2 linked regions of the Homo sapiens genome follow. The protein of the gene in region 1 interacts with the protein of each later gene in a pairwise test. Each region holds a gene or a part of one and is shown on either strand. Other genes may lie near its edges.

The links.
Region 2: the proteins of SPART (region 1) and GPR35 interact in a two-hybrid assay, tested with the Homo sapiens proteins (one large-scale study listed by BioGRID and IntAct).

What each region holds. Positions count from the first base shown.
Region 1 is NC_000013.11:36,301,220-36,305,047, forward strand, and holds the end of SPART (spartin), read right to left. Parts: intron 3,414-3,828; coding exon 3,146-3,413; 3' UTR 419-3,145; downstream 1-418. UniProt on the Homo sapiens protein: Lipophagy receptor that plays an important role in lipid droplet (LD) turnover in motor neurons.
Region 2 is NC_000002.12:240,630,779-240,633,696, forward strand, and holds the end of GPR35 (G-protein coupled receptor 35), read left to right. Parts: coding exon 1-104; 3' UTR 105-2,381; downstream 2,382-2,918. UniProt on the Homo sapiens protein: G-protein coupled receptor that binds to several ligands including the tryptophan metabolite kynurenic acid (KYNA), lysophosphatidic acid (LPA) or 5-hydroxyindoleacetic acid (5-HIAA) with high affinity, leading to rapid and transient activation of numerous intracellular signaling pathways.

The sequences.
Region 1 (3,828 bases):
TTTGGTTGAGGGAATTGAGCCTCTTGCCCTAACAATCAGTAGGGCTTACTAATTTACAATGATGACAGTGTGGGACTGGCACAGGAACAAAAGAAATGACAGATGGAACAAACGTCTGAGCCCAGAAACACTCATACTCTATATATAGAGAAAGACCTGTGGGAAATTACTGAAGAAAAGAACTATTCAATAAATGGGGGTTAAATAACTGATTATCTACGGGGTGGGGGAGGAGGGGAGGAATTAGATACCTTACCTCTTGCACACATATACACAATTCTCAGTAAACACCTAAACATGAGAAGCAAAATTGTCAGCAGTGACAACACGCAAATTTTACAGCACAGGCAAATGAATGGCAAATGAACATGAAAAATTACTGATCTAAGGTCAGGAAAGGAGGTCAAGAAAACACAAATTAAAATTATGAGATACTTTTTTATATATGCTACATTAACAATAAAAACATTGCAAAGGGAAGTAATACTCAAGAGAATATCATCATTTTGGAAAATACCTGGCATTATTTTGCAAAACTTGACAAGCCAACAACTCCACTCTTACGCATAAAGTCTCTTGCATATGTGTACCAGGGGACAGTCAAGGATGTTTTGAGTGTACTGTTTCTACCAACAAAAACTAAAAACAAATGTCAACTGATAGGAAAATGAACACTTAAATTGTGGTATACTCACACAGAATACTATAGAGCAAGTAAACCATCCATGCATATAAGCGCAAGAATGAATTTTAAACATAAACTCAAAAAAGCAAGTTGAGTAAGACTTCACATTCAGACACTATATGTAGAAAGCTTCAAAAAATGAAACAGTATGTTTGGAGAACATACATGTGTGATTAAAAAATGGCAAGGAACAATAAAAAATGACATGGGGAAAGAGGTAAGAAAATAGGAAGAACATACATATAGGTAATTGGCAGCTTTCCATGTCTTTAGGTGTGATGAGTTTTTAAGTGTTGTTATTCATCATACCTTACAAGTAATATATAATTTTATCTATATATCAATCATTACACAATATAAAAAAAATCTTTAGAAGATGCCTATCTCCTAATGAGTCAGTGAATGGTGGGAAAAGTCCATTTTCTATAGACTAAGGCAGCACACTTTTTCTGCAAAGGGCCAGAGAGTGAATAAGTTAGGCTTGTGGACCATATACTCTCTGATGCAACTATTCAACTCTCACGTTGAACTAGACAGCAGCCATAGCCAATATGTAAACAAATGGGTACAGCTATGCTCCAATAAAACGTTATTTATGAAAACAGGTGGACATCTGGATTTAGCCCATGGAGGATATTTGCTGACCTCTGGTCAAAGCTAACTGTTTAAAGTTTATGTTCCATTATTTGCCATTCCATTTCTTTTTAAATTTTTATGGGTACATGGTAGGTGTATATATTTATGGGATACATGAGATATTTTGATACAGGTATGCGATTTATAATAATTACATCAGGGTGTATCTACTGCTTCAAGCATTCATTTGTGTTACAAACGTCCCAATTACACTCTTTTATTTTTAAATGTATAAAGTTATTGTTGACTGTAGTCACCCTGTTGGGCTATCAAATACTACAACAAATTCGTTCTAACTATATTTTCGTACCCATTAATCAACCTCACTTCCCTCCCCATCCCTTCAATGCCTCCCAGCCTCTGGTAACCATCATTCTACTCTCTATCTCCTTAAGTTTGATTATTGTAATTTTTAGCTCCCACAAATGAGAATATATGAAGTGCCATTCCATTTCTTAAACAAAGCATAGACTGTCTGTAAGCTATTTACCACTTCACTTTTATTTCCATTTTAACAACTAGTACATTATCCTTGGCCTTAGGAAAAGCCTCCATCAGTTCTATGTGTTCCCAAAATATAAGCTCATGTGATAACGAGGTCAGGCAATTCAGTTTTTTAATTCATAAAGTGCATTCTTCAGACAGCTTCAAATAATGTCTAATTAAGTAGCCACTAGAAGATCAGAAATTATTAGAATGGACTACAGCTATGAAAACTAATACCAATCTCTTAAATTCAATAAACAAAAATTAAATACCATTAGGTATTTAGTTACATAGTTTTTTAGCCTATGTAAGTAAATAGGGCTGTGAATAGTCTGCCTTCTGCCAAAGTGGAAACCATAATGCCTATCCACCATGGATTACGTCTAAGGTTTTCATATTCTTTACCCTGATTATGAATAGAACCTTTCCTTTTTAATAACTTGTCTTTTAATATAAATTCCAATGACCGAATCCCAGAATAAAAATGTTTACCATTAGTAAACTCAATTGTTTATATATATTTTTTTTACAAGTTTTAACCTTTTGGAAAAACAGAAGCAGATATGATAAAATAATTTCTTGAAGTACTTTTTTAATCCAATTAAGCTGATAATAATCACTTCGAATTTTAATACAATACAATCATGTTCCCAAATTTCCTAGGCTCATAACAATACAGTCTCAATACAAAAGACGTAATAATCTATTTTTATTTATTTTAAATCAAAGAGACCATTCCATTTCCTAACAAACAGGTAAGTTACAAAAGTAGTCCATTTTACTTTTCATCAGTCTTTCCCTGTTTTGAACAAGTTTTTTTGAGAATTCTTAGTTTTAGTTTTTGTTTAGCTTACACACTGAAAATTTTGAGAAGCATCTAAAAAAATCCACAATTAGTGCAAAAAGAGGGGACAATACTTTAAGTCATTCCTTCTATAAAAAGAATTAAGGTTACTAAATGCCAATTTTTAAGCAAATATATAGTTTCCTATTTGCCTTCTGAAAGACAGCAGATATAAAAATAGTTCAATATTAGGTTTAACAAGGTTTGAACAACACATGTACTATCAGCTTTATTTTACCTGCAAAAATATTTTAGCTACACTTGGAAAAAAATAAACTTGAGAATATAACTTCACATTTCTAAGGCCAGATGCAAGAATACTTATTCTTTTCCTTTTAAATAGAAGACATGCCATAAAATTTATGAAAGTTAATTTGTAGGAATGAATACATTTAAAAAATACTGGTTAATCTGTGAGGAATTCCACATTTGCCTATTTAACAAAATTTCATCCATTTCATAAGGCTTTGGTATAAGTGATTCCCAGCACTTCATCATTTATCTTTCTTCTTTGCCTCCTTTACTTCCTTCGTCTGCTCATCCTTCTCCCCTCTCACGTTGACATTTGCTGCTCCTTCTTGATTTTCCCTCTGAGAATTATCAACTATCTGATAGTCCTCAAGGAGAGTGTGTCCTGTTTGTGTTGCAGTTTTCTTCACCATTGCTTTGATACCAATGTTGTTAATATTGTAGGCAGTTACGCCAACATTGACCGCAGAATCCACCGCATGGTGGGTAGCTTCTCCTGCATTATATCCGTATCTTTAAAAGAAAGATTAGAGGACATACAATGAAACAATAAATATAAAATAAGGTCTTCTGAATTAGTATTAAATAAGTCAAATGATTACTGTGTTACCCCTGAAAGCAAAATTAAAGCTTAGGTTTCAATTTAATTAATAACTTAAAACACAGTAGAGAATGAAATCACACTCTGTGACAAAGCAGTATTTTCTCCTTTAGTAAAAACAGTGTGTGAAAATAAACTCAGACTAGCTGAGAATGATGTAATAAAGACTGTCAAGTAAAAATAAAAGTGTAAATTATAATACAGGTCATTAATCAGTCATTATTTCTTTTTTTAATCCTCCCTTTCTAGAAATATGAGGGAAAATATTCACAGAAGCAACTAATCTAGAGTCACGTAAGTAGTTTCAAGTTCTACCTTAACCAGACT
Region 2 (2,918 bases), on another chromosome or scaffold:
ACTACTACATGGCCAAGGAGTTCCAGGAGGCGTCTGCACTGGCCGTGGCTCCCAGTGCTAAGGCCCACAAAAGCCAGGACTCTCTGTGCGTGACCCTCGCCTAAGAGGCGTGCTGTGGGCGCTGTGGGCCAGGTCTCGGGGGCTCCGGGAGGTGCTGCCTGCCAGGGGAAGCTGGAACCAGTAGCAAGGAGCCCGAGATCAGCCCTGAACTCACTGTGTATTCTCTTGGAGCCTTGGGTGGGCAGGGACGGCCCAGGTACCTGCTCTCTTGGGAAGAGAGAGGGACAGGGACAAGGGCAAGAGGACTGAGGCCAGAGCAAGGCCAATGTCAGAGACCCCCGGGATGGGGCCTCACACTTGCCACCCCCAGAACCAGCTCACCTGGCCAGAGTGGGTTCCTGCTGGCCAGGGTGCAGCCTTGATGACACCTGCCGCTGCCCCTCGGGGCTGGAATAAAACTCCCCACCCAGAGTCAGTCCTAGTGGGGCCCTCTGTGTTTCGCACTCGTGTGGTGGGAGGCAGGGAGGGAGCGCGTGGCTCAGAGGGCTGGCGGACATCTTCCAGGGACCCTTCGGGGCTCTTCACTTTGAGGTCCCCCTTGGACCCTTTCACCCCTTCCCACCCCCACCCACCTGGAGCGTGAGCAGGGGCTGTTGGAAGCTCCTGGCAGGACCACAGTAGAGGCCCCCAGCCCAGGTTTCCTTGCTCAAGACAGGGCTGGGAGCAGCTGATCTCCATGTAGGGGCTGCACAGCGGTGCAAGGGGGGGTGACCAAGGTCAAGCAGGTGAGGGTGGGTTGGGGTGGGTGGCAGTGAAGGGGGTGGCCAGGGTCTGTCAAGGAACCCAGCCCTCTTCTCCTTCCTTCAGGGAAAGGCTGGAAACCATGTCTGGCAGGGGCAGGGGTTGGGTGCCCACTCAGGTAAAGGCACGATGTCCTGCTGGTTTCTGCCTCTCCTGTACTCCTGCATGGAGGGCATCTCGAAACCCAAGCTGGAAGGACAGGGCACTCCAGAGACCTCCTGTGAGTGTGGGCCAGCACGGCCTGGGCTCAAACCCCATCCTGTCATCCCATATTGCATGTCCACAGGCACCGCCCCACCCTGTTCCATGTTCCACAGGACTGGAGAGAGATGGCAGTCATGTTCTGGCAGGGACATGGCACAAGCATGCGGCTGATGGCATCTCACAGGACCCAGGCTCCGGAGGGCCCATGCCCAGGAGAGCCCCATAAGGGCTCTGTGCCTAAAAGGGTGCATGCCCAGGTGGGCCCATGCCCAGGAAGGTCCATGCCCAGGATGGTCCATGAGCAGGAGGGCCTCATTCCCAGGAGGGTCCCGTGCCCAGGAGGGCTCTATGCCCAAAAGGGTCCCATGTCCGGGAGGGTCCATACGCAAGGGTGTCCATGCCTGGTTGGGGGGGGTCTATGTCCAGGAGGGTCCCATGCCTGGAAGGGTCCATGCTCAGGAGGGTTCATGCCCAGGAGAGTTTATGCCCTGGAGGGCCCCATGCCCGGGAGAGTCACGTGCACAGAGGGCCCTGTGCTCAGGAGGATACATGTCCAGGAGTGTCCCTGTCCAGGAGGCTCCATGCCCAGGAGGCTCCATGTCAAGAAAGATTCATGCCTAGGAGGGTTCATGCCCAGGAGTGTCCCTGCCTAGGAAGATCCATTACCAGAAGGGCCCATGTCAAGGAGCGTTCATGCCCAGGAAGGTCCAGCCCAGGAGGGTCCATGTCAAGGAGGTTCCATGCCCAGGAGGGTCCATGCTGAGGTGGGTCCATGCCCAGGAGGGTTCATGTCCAGAAAGGTCCATGCCTAGGAGGGCCCATACACAACAGAGCCCTGTGCCCAGGAAGGACCATGTCAAGGAGAACCCCATGCCCATGAGGGTCCATGCCCAGTAAGGGCCATGCCCATGAGATCCTCATGCCCAGGAAGGCCCATGCCCAGGAGGGTCCATGCCCAGGCCAGTTCATGCACAGGAGGGCCCCATGCCTAAAAGTGTCCATGCCCAGGAAGGTCCATGTCCAGAAGAGTCCATACCCAGGAGGGCTGATATGGTTAGGCTTTGTGTCTCCACCCAAATCTCATCTTGAATTGTAATCCCTATAATAACCATAGTCCCCATGTGTCAAGGGAGAGACCAGGTGGAGGCAATTGGATCATGGGGGCTGTTTCCCACATGCTGTTCTCATGATAGTGAGTGAGTTCTCATGAGATCTGATGGTTTTATAAGGGGCTCTTCCCTTCACTTCTCCTTCCTACTGTCTTATGAAGAAGGTTCCTTGCTTCCCCTTCACCTTCTGCCATGATTGTAAGTTTCCTGAGGCCTCCCTAGCCATGCTGAAGTGTGAGTCAATTAAACCTCTTTCCTTTAAAATTACCCAGTCTTGGGCAGTTCTTTATAACAGTATGAAAACAGACGAATGCAGTAAATTGGTACCACAGAGAGTGGGGTGCTGCTGTAAAGATACCCAAAAATGTCGAAGCAACTTTGGAACCGGGTAATAGTCAGAGGTTGGAACAGTTTGGAGGGCTCAGAAGAAGACAGAAAGATGTGGGAAAGTATGGAACTTCCTAGAGACTTGTTGAATGGCTTTGATCAAAATGCTGATAGGGATATGGACAATGAATTCCAGGTTGAGGTGGTCTCAGATGGAGATGAGGAATTTGCTGGAAACTGGAATAAAGGTGATTCTTGCTATGCTTTAGCAAAGAGATTGGCAGCATTTTGCCCCTGCCTTAGAGATCTGTGGAACTTTGAATGTGAGAGAGATGATTTAGGGTATCTGGCAGAAGAAATTTCTAAGCAGCAAAGCATTCAAGAGTGCTCTTAAAAGCATTCAATTTTATGCATTCACAAAGAGATGATTTGGAATTGGAACTCACATTTAAAAGGGAAGCAGAGCATAAAAGTTTA